2 linked regions of the Homo sapiens genome follow. The protein of the gene in region 2 interacts with the protein of the main gene of each other region in a pairwise test. Each region holds a gene or a part of one and is shown on either strand. Other genes may lie near its edges.

Region 1 (7,836 bases), on a different chromosome or scaffold from region 2:
GAGGCATCACGCTACCTGACTTCAAACTATACTACAAGGCTACAGTAACCAAAACAGCATGGTACTGGTACCAAAACAGAGATATAGACCAACGGAACAGAACAGAGCCCTCAGAAATAATGCTGCTTATCTACAACCATCTGATCTTTGACAAACCTGAGAAAAACAAGCAATGGGGAAAGGATTCCCTATTTAATAAATGGTGCTGGGAAAACTGGCTAGACATATGTAGAAAGCTGAAACTGGATCCTTTCCTTAAACCTTATACAAAAATTAATTCAAGATGGATTAAAGACTTAAATGTTAGACCTAAAACCATAAAAACCCTAGAAGAAAACCTAGGCAATACCATTCAGGACATAGGCATGGGCAAGGACTTCATGTCTAAAACACCAAAAGCAATGGCAACAAAAGCCAAAATTGACAAATGGGATCTAATTAAACTAAAGAGCTTCTGCACAGCAAAAGAAACTACCATCAGAGTGAAGAGGCAACCTACAGAATGGGAGAAAATGTTTGCAATCCACTCATCTGACAAAGGGCTAATATCCAGAATCTACAATGAACTCCAACACATTTACAAGAAAAAAACAAACAACCCCATCAACAAGTAGGTGAAGGATATGAATAGACACTTCTCAAAAGAAGACATTTATGCAGCCAAAAGACACATGAAAAAATGCTCATCATCACTGGTCATCAGAGAAATGCAAATCAAAACCACAATGAGATACCATCTCACACCAGTTAGAATGGTGATCATTAAAAAGTCAGGAAACAACAGGTGCTGGAGAGGATGTGGAGAAATAGGAACACTTTTACACTGCTGGTGGGACTGTAAACTGGTTCAACCATTGGGGAAGACAGTGTGGCAATTCCTCAGGGATCCAGAACTAGAAACACCATTTGACCCAGCCTTCCCATTTCTGGGTATATACCCAAAGGATTATAAATCATGCTGCTATAAAGACACATGCACACATATGTTTATTGCGGCACTATTCACAATAGCAAAGATTTGGAACCAACCCAAATGTCCCACAATGGTAGACTGGATTAAGAAAATGTGGCACATATACACCATGGAATTCTATACAGCCATAAAAATGATGAGTTCATGTCCTTTGTAGGGACATGGATGAAACTGGAAACCATCATTCTCAGCAAAGTATCACAAGGACAAAAAACCAAACACCGCATGTTTTCACTCATAGGTGGGAACTGAACAATGAGAACACATGGACACAGGAATGGGAACATCACACACCAGGGACTGTTGTGGGGTGGGGGGAGGAGGGAGGGATAGCATTAGGAGATATACCTAATGCTAAATGACAAGTTAATGGGTGCAGCACACCAACATGGCACATGTATACATATGTAACAAACCTGCACATTGTGCACATGTACCCTAAAACTTAAAGTATAATAATAATAAAATTAAAAAAAATACAATAAATTAAAAAAAAAGAAAGAGTAAATGATTCCTCTTCATGTGACTTTGTAGCCCAAAACTCATCCTGAGCTTTACCTTCATGGCCTCTTCATTGCCATCACAAGCGCTACACTCAATCAGGGAGTTCCCCAGGTTGATGACGCCATGCACCTGCTCAGATCGGCCATCGACTTCATGTGCAAAGGTCTGGTGTTTCAGGTATTTCCTCTGAAGGGAAAATGAAACAGAAATTATATTATCTTTTTATTTATGGTGACAAGATAAGGTAAATTGTATTTAAAAGGAAGGGCTAATATTTCTATCATAACTGAGGTGACGGTGACTTCTGAAGAACCTGCTCCACATCAGACTCTGAAGTCTCTGAGAGCAGGCATGGTAGCCTCAACAGTCAGAAAGTGTTAAAGTATCAAGGGTGATGACTATCCAACCAACAAGCTCGGAATGGTGAAATTTTCCAAGATTCCTATTTTGAACTTGCCTGAATGTTAGTGGCGTCTTTGTAGGATTCATCACAGGCTGTGGGCAGCATCTCACTGATCCATTCTTCCAGCTCCTCAAGGTCTCGGTAGAATTGTTTTAGGTTGGCATAGTCTCCAAGCTTTGTCCGCTCATCAATCAGTTGTGCTTTGAGAGCCTTCCACCTAGAGGACGGAGCCAAATCACTCTATGCCCTCCTCCACCCTTCCCATGCTCTGATGCCATATCCATAAATCTTCCCATTTGCCAACATGCCTCTTTTCTTCTCACATAGTCTTATTATTTTCATTATAAAATGCAGTGCTAAAGCCAGTTAATTTCTAAGGTATCTTTCATCTTTCATGTCTTTCATTCTATAAATCTAAGTCAGAAAGTCTGCATAGGTGTCAAGATAGTTTTAGTCACCTAGAAATGACAGGAAGCCAGAGTATTCCCCCATCTCAATGCTAGCAAAAAGGTCAGTTTGCTATATCTTCCTTTGGCACATAAAACAATCACTCAGGCCTGACCTGTCTAGTACACGTTGGAGCCGCGTAGCAATCTCTTCTTTGGCATAGTGTTCATCAGCAATGAGGCTCTCAGCAAAATGTTCTAGGTCAGTGATCTTCCCTTCCTAAATAAAGGAAAAGGAAAGAGCCCAGATGCTTGGAGATTAGGCTCTTGGTGCAATCCCAGACTCCCTCCTAGAAAAGAATGAAGGTATCCTTTGTGGATTCAGAAGATATACTCAGGGTCAAATAATATATGCCTTACAGGGAGGTGGGTTTCAACTTAATAGGAGGAGAAACATCTAATAATGGGCTACTTGTGTGGTACAGAGTTCCCTAAAGAACAGACACTTCTCATGACCATTGTAGAGGGTGAATCCTTTATTGAGTGAGATGATGAAATGACTATTTAATCAATCCTAAAAGTCAGAGTTTAGAATGCTGGATTTAAAGTAAGAGAGTCTGCTTGCTGCCTGTGACTTGGGTGAAACAATGTCAAGTGTCAAGCTGCCCTGCCTGCCTCAGTTTTTCTGTAAGAAGCAAACAAGAATCAGGGCTGGGCACGGTGGCTCACTCCTATAATCTCAGCACTTTGGGAGGCCGAGGTAGGTAGATCACTTGAGGTCAGGAGTTCGAGACCAGCCTGGCTAACATGGTGAAATCCTGTTTCTGCTAAAAGTACAAAAATTAGCTGGGCATGGTGGTGGGTGTCTGTAATCCCAGCTACTCAGGAGGCTGAGGTAGGAGAATCACTTGAACCCGGGAGGCAGAGGTTGCAGTCAGCCGAGATCACACCACTGCACTCCAGCCTGGGTGACAGAATGAGACTCCATCTCAAAAAAAAAAAAAGTAAATCAAAATGTTTATAAATTATAAAACCAGACAAATGTGTAGGATTTCTGTTATTATTACTACGGATTATTATTTTAATTCCTTTACTAGTCATTATTACCTGGGCAGTGATTGCTTTGTCCAAATCGTCCCGTTTCTTCATCAAAGCCTCCAGACTGTCTAAGGAACTTTTGTCATCTGACCTCAGGGAATTCTCACGTGCCACCATCCAGCTCTCAACTTGATCACAGTTCCCCTGGAACATCTATGAGGAATCAAATGAGAGGGGTATGGTATAGTCCATGTGGTGTGGAGGAAATGATGTTACACCTCTTTCAGGATCATGACACAAAGGGTTTTGCAAGGAGTACTTACCATCTTCCAAGAAACACTCATGTGACAAATCTTAGCTGTACTGGAACTTTTCCTCTTTTCCAAACATACACTTTATGTTTCTGTATATGCTACCTCCAATTCCTGGGGTGCTATTTCCTATTTCTTAAACCTTGTTAATACTGGCTGGTCATTTCCTTAAGACTTTGTGAAACGTTATCCTTCAGGGTAGCCTGTGACACAACCACTTACTTCCCCCAAAAGCTTTAATCACTTCTTGTTTTTTAGCCTCAAAGCACTCGTACATTTTGGTTTATTAATAATCATCTCACTGTACTAGTAAAATTTATCTATATGTCTAATTTCACTATTTAAGAAATGGGAAACTATCTTACTAATCTTTGTGGCACTCCGAGCCTCCACAGAGTAGAGTCTCAACAAAAATCAGCCAATCAATTCCTCAGTCAATCAACAAATGATAGTCAACCCACCTCATGCTCAGGACTGATCACCATCTTGTTTGGCTCTTCTAACAAGAAAGAGCAGAGAATATGACAATGATCGGTATAGAAAGCATAGTACAATGCTAGGTAATTAAGAGATGAGCTCCCTTTGTGTTTATAACGTGGAAAGTCTAGTGAACGGAGCCTGTAATGACCATATGAAATTGCATAGGAGAAACAGACTACTGAACCTGCTTAACAATTGGGAAATTTGCTGTACCTGCAACTCCAGGCACTGGTCTAGGATCTTCTTGCGTTTTTCCCAAGCCTTCTCCAAATCATCTCTCTCTAGCTTGACAGCTTGAAGCTTTTTTTCAATTTCAGGGCTAGCATGGTGCCCACTGTCGATAAGTTCTGCACTGAAGTCCTCTAAGGCCTGGAAGGTGGGAGCCTCTGCCTCCATGTCAGCACGGTGCTCCTGTGGGAAAAAGGGGGAAGAAATCAGTGAGGCCAACTCCATTGGAAATTTTAAAATTAGTAGAGGTTTCAGGTCAAGTGATCAGTGGCTGTGACTTTTGTAGTTTTACCTGATGTCTCTCCAGCAAGATCTCTATGCCAGTTAAGTCTTCGGCCAGCTCCTGTGATGATACCATGCCACCAATGCTACTGATCCAGTTCTGCAGATCCCTAGATAAACAGACACATTGGAATTGACAAGAAAACCTTGCAACTTGCTACAGTGCTGTTTGTCCTACAGTTTTCCATTCTCTAGAAAACATTTCCAGAATAACATTTTTTATCTGGCTTTATATGCTTTACAGATCTTACGTTTGCTGTTTTTATTATATCACCTAATGATAACAATCCCTTGTATTTGAAAGCCTCTTCACTTTTATTATCTTTTTCAATTCTTGCAGTAATCCTGCAGAGATTCCGGGAATTTTTTGTTTTCATTATGGAGATAAAGAAGTCACCTTAGAAAAGGTAATTAATCTGCCTATGTGGTATAACTAAAAGCAGACATCTTCAATAAAACCTAGACCTCTGGAATCCTGGACTGTTATATATTTCATTACTTCTGTTGGTTACTGTTCCTTTTAAGTGGTTTCTAGGGTTTGAAGATACATCTTATTACAGAGTCTCAAAGAAATCATGTCTTTCCTCTTACTTTTATTCTCAAGTGAATCTAGCACATATTTTGGCCAACATACACATACACACACAGGCCTCCACACTGTTGATTAAATCAAGGTCTATTTCCCTACCCTTTTAGTAGTCAGGAAGTTAGACGAGCAAAACTAAGGTCTATCTTCTTAAAAGGCAAATTTTAACTATGCATTAACTTTAAAGCATATATGGTGTATAAATTAAGCATCTCATAAAGAATGTCATTACTCTTGTTTGCTCAACAGGAACCCTTAGCTCTAGGAAAGAGAGGTCTCTTCTTTTGTAAATTTATTTATTCAAGCAACTAAGTTTTATTGGGTGCTTACTAAGTACCAAACATTGTGAAAAAGGCATATCTGTGCCTTCTAGGAACTCATACTTTAGGTTAAGAATGGATAAAAACAAAACAAAACAAAACAAAAAACAAACAAAAAACAGAGCATAGGCACTAATAGCAATTAAAAAACAAAACTGAAAGCAAAAGTATCATATGGAGTAAAATAAGATGTTAATGTTGCTCAGGGGTGGGAACACTACTCTGAAATACTGAGGAGTACAGCTTCATAAAGGGAAGGAAGCACCATTGGAATGGGTGTGGGTGCTATTTATTTAAACTGTGTCAAAAACTATAGCTTTCCAGTGCTGAACTGGGGAGGGGATTTCCAAGAGGAACTACAGTCATTTGCCAAAATTTGCCTCCTTTTTTCTTGAAAAGCATTGCATTGAGAGCTACAACTTCCTGGACCCTCTACTCTAATGCTCCTCTCAGCTGACTGATGCGATAGAGCCAAACGTGGGAACTGTTCCACAAAGTATATGTTTGAGAGGTGAATTTTGGATTGTGATAATGTCTAGACTTTAGTAAGATATTCACAGTTCTCTGGAATTTGGTCCCAATATTATTTTTAAGTTTATCTCTTACTACTTCTCCTTACCACCCCCTCCCCAAACATGTTCTTATGCTTATTCTTTTCTCATGATTATGTCTTTTTTTGCACAGTTCAGTCTACATGAATTGTTTTCTCTTCTGTTAAAAGTTTGACTGATAAGGTGTAATAAAATGTTACTTTATCTACAGTGCATCATCTATTCTACCCAACTCTGAATTCCCACTGCTGTTTGTTACAATGTGTGTTTTCGGCCTCATTATGTTCTACCATAGTTATTTGTATTCAACAGAATACTGAATACAGTAGAAGACTGAATACTACTGTCTCTTCAGTAGAACAAAAAAGCTTCTACATTATAGAAGCTTACTTAATTGGCCTACATGGCTTCATATTCTTTCAAACTTTGTATTTTATTGCTTCTAGTTTCAAACCTGAAATTTTTTATGCCTTGCAAGAGGTGAGACTTAAACGTAGTGATGCCCTCCAAAACCAGCAGTGAACAGCATCTGTACCCAGACTGCTCCCAGACAGTCTACTTAGAGGCCAGACACGGAAGTTACCCACCCCACTCTACCTGGCCTTGCTGAGGAACAGGTAGAATTTCTGGGCCTCATTTAGGCTCTCCTTACGATCCTTTGTACGCCCCTGCAGGTCTTCCCAGGCCTCATTCAGCTCCATTTTCTGTCTCTGCAGGTCCTCAGTGGCATCTGGATGGGACTCACTGAGCCGCTCTGCTGTCTCCCCCAGTATGGTCACCTGGGGAGGTACAATAGCTCTGATAATCAGCCTAGAGACACACCTGAATCTTAGCAAAAGGAGAATCCTGAGTCCCAGTATTCAGCTCCTCAAATAGATATCAGTGATGTACAAGTATGTCATCATACTTTACAAAATAATATCAACCTTTTAGTCCACATAACTCCCTAAGGTAGTTACAATTGGCATTACCATACTTCTTTTTAAAAATAAGAGAGTTGTGGGGAAGAGTGGTTAAGTGACTCTGCTGGTTAGTGGCAACCTCAATTAGGAAACCCAAGGGTCTTGATTCTTCATGTGAGGAGCTTCTTTTTGCTCTGCATGATAATGCCAAGCCTCTGAGTATATCTGACAAGCTCCAGAGTACACTTTTGGGTTGAAACAGAGTTAAACAACTCATTCAATTCCTTGCTAAGAAAAACATGCACCATACTCAGATATTGGCCTGATCATCCTGGGTATGGACATTTGCTATTTCTTCTGGGCTACTGGCCTCCACCTAGCTGCCACAAGATCTGGTCACTTGTAACCCACCAAAGAGGCAAGGGGATATAGGGTGCTCACTCAGACAGCAGGAGTTTAACAAGTTTTTTCCCCATGTTAATGGTCATGGGGCATATCCTTTTCATGGTCTTGCCTTAGGGACAGTGTACAAGAATAAATATGGCACAGAACAGAGAGAAATATAAGAATAAAAGACTGAAAAAGAGAACCAAAGAAGAGGGCATTGGTATACGGCTAAATATAGACTGGAAAGTGTTGGAAAAGCTTTGAAGGACTTGTCTCACCTTATCTCCCAGGGGTACGAGGTCCCTTTCAAAGCCCTCATGCCGTCGCTGAAGAGCCTGAACACTGAACAGATCTGAGCCAGGGTCTGCAGCACTGAGGGCCTGGCATTTCTTCTCAATCTGCTCCTTCGTGTCATCTGCTTCTCTGGTATACAAGAGAGTAGAGAGTTCAAAAGTAAGGATATGTACCAGAGGCAGGCTAGTGGG
Region 2 (9,553 bases):
GTGTCCATGTGTTCACATTGTTCAGTTCCCACTTATGAGTCTTATGAGTGAGAACACATAGTGTTTGGTTTTCTGTTCCTGTGTTAGTTTGCTGAGAATTATGGCTCCCAGCTTAATCCATGTCCTGGAAAAGGACATGATCTCATTCTTTTTTATGGCTGCATAGTATTCCATGGTGTATATGTGCCACATTTTCTTTATCCAGTCTATCATTGATGGGCATTTGGGTTAATTCCAAGTCTTTGCTATTGTAAATATTGCTGCAATAAACCTACATGTGCATGTGTCTTTATTTTAGAATGATTTATAATCCTTTGGGAATATACCCAGTAATGGGATTGCTGGGTCAAATGGTATTTCTGATTCTAGATCCTTCAGGAACCACCACACTATCTTCCACAATGGTTGAACTAATTTACACTCCCACCAACAGTGTAAAAGCTTTCTTATTTCTTCACAGCCTTGCCAGCATCTATTGTTTCTTGACTTTTTAATAATCACCATTCTGGCATGTGATGTTATCTCATTGTGGTTTTGATTTGCATTTCTCTAATGATCAGTGATGATGAGGCTTTTTTCATATGCTTGAAAACAAAACATTTTTAAAAGTCTAGCTAGATACTCTTGTCCCTCCCAAGCTTCTGAGCCTAAGATCCGTGGTATCTTTGTTGAAAAATAGAAGTTAGCAAGCATTAGGTATAAAAGAGACACGAGCACAAAATGGTTATTTTATCAGATTGAAAGAGAATTGAAAGGGAATAACTTTCTTACTATGTGATTCAATATTATTTAACATCTTGTCTACAGCACTGGGTACATAGTGTTATACATCCCGCTGGTGTAAGCCAAAACCATTTTCGTGGATAACTAAGCTAACTATTAGTAACGGTATGAAAAAATACAAATTAATAAAAGAACATTTCAGAAATGTAGATCCAACAATGTGTTAATAGCCAGCCAGAAAGTAGGTACTGCAGAATTGTTACAAGTCCCCCACATTATATAACCAGCTATTGAGAACAAGGAGAGAGCGGATGTAAAATTCTGAGAAGGATATTGGATAGAACCTCAGGGAAATTCTGTCATCCAAAGTCATCTTCTCCTGCCCATTTCCTTCCTGATTGTCTCCAAGGCTGGACCCAGCTTCCAAATTCCCTCTTTTTTAGTTCCCAGTCTTTGGGATGTTATTATAACATCCAAAAGCTTTTTGAAGGTGATGATCCTACCTTATGCATTCCAAAATCTGCTGTGCTTGGGGCAAGGCCTGGTAGACCTAACAGGCGCAGTAGATGTCTGTGAAATAACTGGCTGAATGTAACACAAACACCACACCAGCAGGCATGGGGCTTGCACAGAGCATGGCGGCTTCATGGTGAGGTTGCTGCAGCTTCACTCCTCTTCTGTTCAGGCCTCCTGATCCTATAAACAAGTATCCCCTAATCCCACAACGGTGGTTCCTTGGCTGCAAGGCTGTGAGGTTTTATTCAATAGGCTATGGTCCCTTGCACAGTGCTCTGTAAAAATGTATTGGGTAATTAGAATTAATACCTTTTTTGTTGACATTGCCAACTATGAAATCGGGCTTTTTCTGCCTCAGTTGCCTAAGGACTAGGCTGGGACTGGGTGGAGTTGGTCATGGGTGGAGGCTTCTCGGGTGATTTAGGGCAAGTGAGTTAACAACTTGTACCACACATGTGAGATGGAGAAGTGCGTGAGGATGTTAAAAATGATTAAACAGCACTTTGCAAACAATCACAACAACACTTTGTGGCTGACAAGTAGGATAGGGAAAGTTGAGTGTCATACAGCCCAAAGAACTGTTAAGAAAAATATTCATGGAACTAGTCAGAACTGGTAGTTCCCCATAAGCAGGTGGGTGGGTTGTAGTGGGAAGTGTCCCAGATCAGACTGGGCAGGCCTTGCTGGGGTGGTGGGGTGGGGGTGATCATGGTGGGAGGAGGAGTATTGAGGAGTGGGCACAGGTGAAACCCCATCGCGACGGCCACCATTACAACATCACCCCTTGAACCCTTAAGTTACATTAATATCTAAGCCTGACTTGGCTTTATAGTTAACAACATTGAGTATGTCTGATTACAAAAGAACAAACAATTTGGGGGCAGATGTTCTCTAACTGGTGTGAGCAGAAGTTTCACTTGTAGGGATGGATGGGTTACATGTTCAAAATACAGATCTCTAAGCCTTCATCCGGAATTTTCTGATTCAGAAGATCTAGGGTAGTGATGCTAAGCCAAGGACGATTTTGCCTACCAGGGGACATTGGGCAGTATCTGGAGACAGTTTGCATTGTCACAACGGAAGCCTGGGATGTTCCTAAACATCCTACATTGAACAGGACAGCCCCTCCTAACAAAGAATTATCAGACCTTCAATGTCAATAGGGCCTGGGTTAGAAAATCTTGCTCTAGGGCAAGGACCAGGTACGTGCATCTTAACAAGGGCCTCAGGAGATTTTAATGCGGAAGCAGAAGCCTTACACGGTGTCTTTTTGATACAAGGGCTTCAGTATCAGAGTTCCCTTTTTGCCTACCCGTTTGTTATATGTAAGACTCAGCTTTGACTTACCTCTTCCCTTGAAGCCCCGCCTGGTAACCATCCTTCCTTTCGCCAAGTTCAGGGTAATCACTCCTCCTAAGAACACCTTCACCACATACTTATAACCAACTGATCTTTGGCAAAGCATATAAAAACATAAGTTGGGAAAAGGTCTATTCCAGTGTTCTCCAGCCTTTTTTTCACCAGGGACTGGTTTCATGGAAGACAATTTTTCCATGGACCAGGGCAGGGTGGATGGTTTTGGGATAAAACTGTTTGACCTCAGATCATTAGGCATTAGATTCTCATAAGGAGTGTGCAACCTAGATCCCTTGCATTCACAGTTTACAATAGAGTTAGAGCTCCCATGAGAGTCTAATGCCCCTGCTGAAGTGACAGAGCTCAAATGGTAATGCTTGCTTACCCCTACCTGCTCACCTCCTTCTGTGCCACCTAGTTCCTTACAGGCCATGGACAGGTGCTAGTCCATGGTTCAGGGGTTCGGGACCCCTGCCCTATTCAATAAATGGTGCTGGGAAAATTGGATAGCCACATGTAGAAGAATGAAACTATCCCTGTCTCTGACCATATATAAAAATTAACTCAAGATGGATTAAAGACTTTAAACATAAGACCTGACACCATAAATATTCTAGAAGAAAACCTAAGAAAAACTCTTCTGGACATTGGCTTAGGCAAAGAATTTCTGACTAAGCCCTCAAAAGCAAATGCAACAAAAATAAATAAATAAATGGAGCCTAATTAAACTAAAAAAATTCTACCCAGTAAAAGAAACAATCATCAGAGCAAACAGACAACCTACAGAATGGGTGAAAATATTTGCAAACTATGCATCTGACAAAGGACTAATATCCAGAATCTACAAGGAACTCAAACAAATCAGCAAGAAAAAAAAAAAAATAATCTCATTAAAAAGTGGACAAATGACGTGAATAGACATTTCTCAAAAGGAGACAGACAAATGGCCAACAAACATAATGAAAAAATGCTGAACATCAATAATCACAGGGTAAATGCAAATTAAAACTGCAGTGAGATAGCACCTTACCCTAGCCAGAATGGCCATTATTAAAAAGTCAAAAAACAACAGATATTGGTGTGGATGTGGGGAAAAGGGAACTTTTATACCCACTGCTGGTGTGAATGTAAATTAGTACAATCTCTATGGAGAACAGTATGGAGATTTCTCAAGGAATTAAAAGTAGATCTACCATTTGATCCAGCAACCCCACTACTGGGTATCTACCCAAAGGAAAAAAAGTCATTATGTCAAAAAGACACCTGCAGGCGTATATTCATTGCAGCACAATTGCAAAGATATGAAATCAACATAAGTGCCCATCAACTGATTATTGTATAAAGAAAATGTGGTATATATATCTATATATGTGTATTTGTGTATATATATGTGTGTTTGTGTGTATATACACACATATATATACACCGTGGAATACTACTCAGCCATAGTAAAGAACAAAATAATGTCTTTCACAGCAACTTGGATAGAGCTGGAGGCCGTTATTCTAGGTGAAGTAACTCAGGATCAAAAACCAAATACCACACGTTCTTGGTTATAAGTGGGAGCTAATGCATGGGTATGCAAAGGCATATGGAAAGATATCATGGACATTGGCAACTCAGAAGCGAGGAGTATGGGAAGGGGGTGAGGACTGAAAAACTACCTATTGGGTACGATGTACACTACTCGGGTGACGGGTGCACTGAAATCCCAGACTTCACCACTATGCAATTCATCCATGTAACCGAAAACCACTTTTACCCCTAAAGCTATTGAAATAAAAAAAATAATAAAGCAAAAAAAAACACCTCTAGTCCCAGCCTGCATCAAATGCCCTCAGTTGCTTTGCCCTCTCACTGGAAGGAGCACTCCTTGAGGGCATGGTCTAGGTTCACCTTGTTCACAGACTTGCCCCCAACACCTCAAAAGGTGCCTGGCCGATAGCAGAACTCAATAATCACATGTTTGTTTCAATCTCTCTGTGCTCAAATGCCATATCCTACATTGAATCTAGAGCCACCCACCCCCTTTTAGACACTATTACAGCACTCAGCTTAACGTCTTCATGGAGCGAATCACTCAAAGTATCCTGTTTATTTGCTTGCTTACTTTTCATTCATTCAACAAATATTTTACTGGGCACTTATTATATGTCTTGTGCTTTGCCAGCACTTGGGGATATAAGAGAACAAAGAGGCAAAAATCCTTCCTTCCATTGGAGCTTACATTCAAGAGGGGAACTTGTACAATCAACAGAATAGAAAACTGTCTATAACCTGTGTGACACTCACTGATCAGCTCACTGGGGAATAACAAAATGGAGAAATGGGGCAGGGAGTGTGTGTGTGTGTGTGTGTGTGTATTTTAGGTGAGGTAGACCTTTGGGAAAAGGGGACATTTAAGCAAAGATTGGATAGCTGGGGGGCACTTGTCTGCACTCCCCCATTAGAATATAAATACCAACATGGCCACCACCTTCCCTTTCTCTGTGGCCTCTGTGTCTCCAGAATAGGCACATAGTAGATGCTCAATAAACATTCTTCAAAGGAAACAAAAAGAGGAGTATATGATTAGACCTTAAAGTAGACAGAAGGGAGATTTTTGTTTTTGTGACCACCCATTGATTAGCGAGAAAGTGGGAGGGACAGGGGCACTAAATTGAAGGGGTCGTGGGGAGCACATTTTGGTGGGGGCAGGTTAAGACTTACAGGATGGAGATCCTCACTGGATAAGGTCCCCTCCCCCTTCCCAGCCCCGAGCAAACCTAAGTTCTCCCTCTCCTAAGATTGTGCATGGTCCCTGCTGGTCAGCCAACCTGGCCCCCCTGAATCTCCCTCCACAGCCTCCCAGCTTCAGAGTTCAGCCATCATCACACTGCCTCCTTTTCTCCCGCACCCCTTCCCTCCTCACCTCCTTTCCTCCCGCCCCCGCCCCTTCCGCCTCCCGGAGGGGTGTCCCCGCGCCCGGTGGGCACGCCCTCGCCCCGGCGGAGAGGGCGCACAGAGGGGCCTGGGCCGGCGCGCCGGGGCCCCCGCCCCCAGCCCCTCTCCCCTGCGGGACGCTGTCCCTTTAATAGGCTCCCGCTGCCTGGCGCTCTGCGGCTGGGGAGTAAATTTCTCCCTGTCATCAGGTCGCGGGGAGAGGAGGAGGAGGAGGAGTTTGTTAATGTTCAGTTTGTTCAGCGGGATCGATGTTTGCTGGCATCGCCTCGCCCTGTCTTGTGTGTGTGTGCGAGGGTGTGTGTGTGTGTTTGTGTGTGTGTGCATATGTGGGGGGTGTGAGTGTGTGTGTGCGAGGAAGCGGGGGTGCGTGCGCGTGTGAGTGCGTGTGTGAGTGTCTGTGTGTGTGTCTGTGTGTGTGTGTGAGTGAGTGAATTCCAGATTTTCTGTCTTTCCAAAACCCGCTCCTGTCCTCTCGCATATCACTCACAGACGGGGATCTGACAGCAGCCACAAACCTACAGTGAGTGATCGCTCTCCCCCCGGCACGAATCCGCCATAGAGATCGGCGAGGAGGAGGAGGAGGAGGAGGAAGAAAAGAAGGAGGAGGTGGAGGAGGAGGTGGAGGAGGAGGAGGAGGAGGGAAAGAGGAGAAGGAAGAAGAAGAAAAAGAAGAAACCCACTACCTTCCCAGGATTGCCTTTTTTTTTTCCTTATCTTTACGCGCGAGTGTGCCTGTGGCGCGTGTGCGCCCCTCGTCCCTTCCATCCGAACCCGGGCTTGGATGTTTAATAAAGAAATCAAGTGTCTCAACAGTCACCAAAAAAAAAAAAAACCGCAAAAACAAAACCAAAAAAATTCCAAAAGCAAAAACAAAAAAGAGAGAGGAAAAAAAATTCAAAATAAACAAACAAACAAACAAGGCAGAACCAACCTCTACTTCAAAGCAGCCGGCACAAGCCACCCGTGTCTGCCACCCAGAGAGGGGGGTCTCTGGCCCGTGGTGGAGGAGTTGCAGGGGGGATCGTCAGGGGGACAGAGGCCGAGTGACGTCCTAGGAGCCACCGGGCAAGAGGCGGAGGAGACCCAGAGAGGCCAGAGAGACAGCGGGCCCCAGCGCGCGGCTCGGGGCTGGGGCGCCAGAAGTGGGACTGGAGCGAAGTAGAGGATGCCGAGGAGAAAACAGCAGGCACCCAAGCGGGCGGCAGGTAAGAGAAACGGCTCCGCTTCGGGGCTGCCCTGTGCGCCGAGCTCCTCGCCCGCCCTCCTTGCCCCTGGGTGCCCGGGGGCACCACCCACTTAAGCTTTCGGGGGAGTTTGCGCCGGGTGCCCTTCTAATAACCCCGTCCTCTCTCGCCTTCTCTGGTCTCCCAAATCCTCCCCTTCCAAGCTCCGGTTGGGTTGGGGTGAGCTATCCCACCAAGCCTTTCCTCCTTAAACTTTCTTTCCTCCACCCTCTACCCCACCCCTAACTTTCTTCCAGTCTGTTTCTTGCCTCTCGGGCCAAAGTCGGATTGAGGATTTGGGGTGCGGAGTAGGGAGACAGCCCCTCCACCCCTGCATCCCTCTGCGTGGTCAGTGCCAGTGGCTTTTGGCCTCCAGGGATAGCGTCTCCTCTCACTGGGGCTTGGGGCGCTGAAGTGTGAGGCATACCTAACACTCGGGCTGCAGGCAGGCTTTGGGGCCAGCAATAGGAGTTTAGCGTTGATCACCAAGGTGGACAAAATGCCCCCAGGAAATGGATGACTCTTTGCATATATTTTCTAAAAGGATCCATATTTGGAAATGTAATTAACAATTTCCCTATTCTTTAAAAAAACCAAAAAGGGTTGTAGGGGGGAAATTCCCCATAGAAATTTAAACAGCTCTGGATTTTCTTTGCCTAGAGAGTTGCAAACTTTGTGAAATGATTCGTACTGTAAAAACTATCCCATCTGAATCCTTACTGCCCCCTAAAAAAGATAAGAACAGGTTAATGGATCAGTACAATAGACCTTCTAAAGTTTTTTTTTCTTTTGGGTTGCTTAATTGCTTTTTTAATAGTATGCTGGGGTTTTGTTTCTCGGAAATGTAATATGAAAGTTCATTTTTCTTCTGCCAGACCCACCCACTGAAAAATCAGCTTTCCACTTGATTGCTAGTTTTGATTTGACATTTGATTGATCACCTGTCATCTCGCTGCCTTTGATCTATTCATTCTTGATATATATCAATAAATCACTCACCATGGTAACTCAGAGTGCCAGTGACGCAAACCTTGCCCTCTATATTCAGAGCCAGACATGCACAATTATTATCTTGTTTGGCTTTTAATGTGGGCGTTTTTATTTCTTTGTGTCCTTTAGTTGAATCAGGGCTTTCGCAAAAAGCTTAAGTTTAGTTGTTTTTTCCTCTCTCTCTGTCTTTACCCTCTTGATTTAGGCAACATTAGGTAAGACTGGTCTTCTGCAGACCCACCTCCACATTTCATTCTGTTCCAACTCTAGCAAAACATAGGGAGAAGTTTGGTGGAACACTTTCATAAACTTTGCAAAGTCACCCTTAGAACAAATCCAAAGTTAGTTAGGAATCTGAGGAGAGTGGGCATCCCTTGTCTGAATGTGTTGAACCACCAAGCTCATCCTCCTTCCTCGCCTGAGTGTTTCAAAATATCCACAATTATCATTCCTTCTGAGCACAGAATTGCTTCCCTATTTGTAAGTTGGTTCAAGTGGCATGCAGAAATATTGATAAAGCGTGGATTCATATATTTTCTGATCGTTTCCCTAAAAGCAAAATAATTAAAATATTTTTAGTGAGGTACGTATTTGGAACTTGCCTCATCAGTGAGGTTTTCTTTTTTCAACTCTAGTTACTTCTTTGGAAAACAATGTCTCTTTCCTACCGTTGTCTCTTTCTGCATTTAACTCACTGATTTCCTAAAACTTAGGCTGCTTTGCAATCTGACAGCGTGTGGATGTGTTCAATGGCCTTTGAGACCCAGGAACAGTGAGCCTGCTGCATCTAGTTCTGGCAACATAAGTTTAAGTGTAGCTACATTATTAGAGATAACGTCCTTATTGTTGTCCCGAAAGAGAACCCTGGGCTACGGTCCAGCAAGAAGTGATACTGCCCTGAAAATTACTCTTTTTTTTTTTCTGGTTGTTCCGGTAAAGACTATCAACAACTAGGCAGTAATTTAAATTACCAGAATGACTGGACATGTCTCCTTTAGTAAGCTCATTACAAAAAGTGCATTGCTCAGAATTGCTCGACTTTGATTATAATTATCCTACGATCGATAAGGATCCAGGTGTACGTAACATAACACTGTATCACATTATTTAAATCAGGTCCTTTTCATTAAGCTGTGTCTGTTGGTGCTGGCTAGTTTATTGGTGTGTGTGGGTGTGTGGGGGTGTGTGTGTGTGTGTGTTAGAAACTTGTAACTATAGTTTCAGTTTTCTGGCCTATTATATTCCTACTGTCTTTGTATGTTTGTTTTGTATGATTCTTATTATTTTCACCAGAAGCGGAAACCCTTTTTAAGCTGAAAAAGGATGATTCATTTCGTACACAGTGAGGGCCCTCTTACCTTATTTATTTGCTCACATATTAATAGAGGAGACAGTTTTTCATGCAGTGTTTCTTCTGTTCATCTAAGGTCATCAATGCCCTACTCTATTTCAGCTGAAGTGGTTATTCACAAGTAAAGTTAGCCACTTTGGGGTTCTGTAGTCAGTTAACATCCAGGGAAGGGGAGAAGGTGGGTTCTAAGATTATGGCCATACTAACTTTTATCACTGCTTAAAATTAAACACAATGCACAACTGTAAGTAATTACACCCAAGGACTGATGTTGAAAGCTTGATTTCTAGCTTGATTAATGAATAATGGGAGATAGAAAAAGCCTGTGAGTGGATCCGAGCTGAGGCTCTCCCGGAGCGCTCTTTTTCCCAAGAACTGTTCCAGGCAATTTGATTCCTTTGTATTATTAGTTATAAGTTCCATGTTTCAAGGAATCAATTACAGAACTTTC

What was found. Proteins that work in one complex are often made in the same cells at the same time.
Region 1: the proteins of TSHZ2 (region 2) and SPTA1 interact in binary tests that used the Homo sapiens proteins (3 or more experiments, as listed by UniProt).

The regions. Positions count from the first base shown.
Region 1 is NC_000001.11:158,640,880-158,648,715, forward strand, and holds part of SPTA1 (spectrin alpha chain, erythrocytic 1), read right to left. Parts: intron 7,775-7,836; coding exon 7,630-7,774; intron 6,842-7,629; coding exon 6,660-6,841; intron 4,716-6,659; coding exon 4,616-4,715; intron 4,507-4,615; coding exon 4,309-4,506; intron 3,518-4,308; coding exon 3,374-3,517; intron 2,617-3,373; coding exon of another isoform or gene 2,547-2,616; coding exon 2,443-2,546; intron 2,098-2,442; coding exon 1,935-2,097; intron 1,664-1,934; coding exon 1,532-1,663; intron 1-1,531.
Region 2 is NC_000020.11:52,966,591-52,976,143, forward strand, and holds the start of TSHZ2 (teashirt homolog 2), read left to right. Parts: upstream 1-5,767; 5' UTR 5,768-6,703; coding exon 6,704-6,743; intron 6,744-9,553. UniProt on the Homo sapiens protein: Probable transcriptional regulator involved in developmental processes. May act as a transcriptional repressor.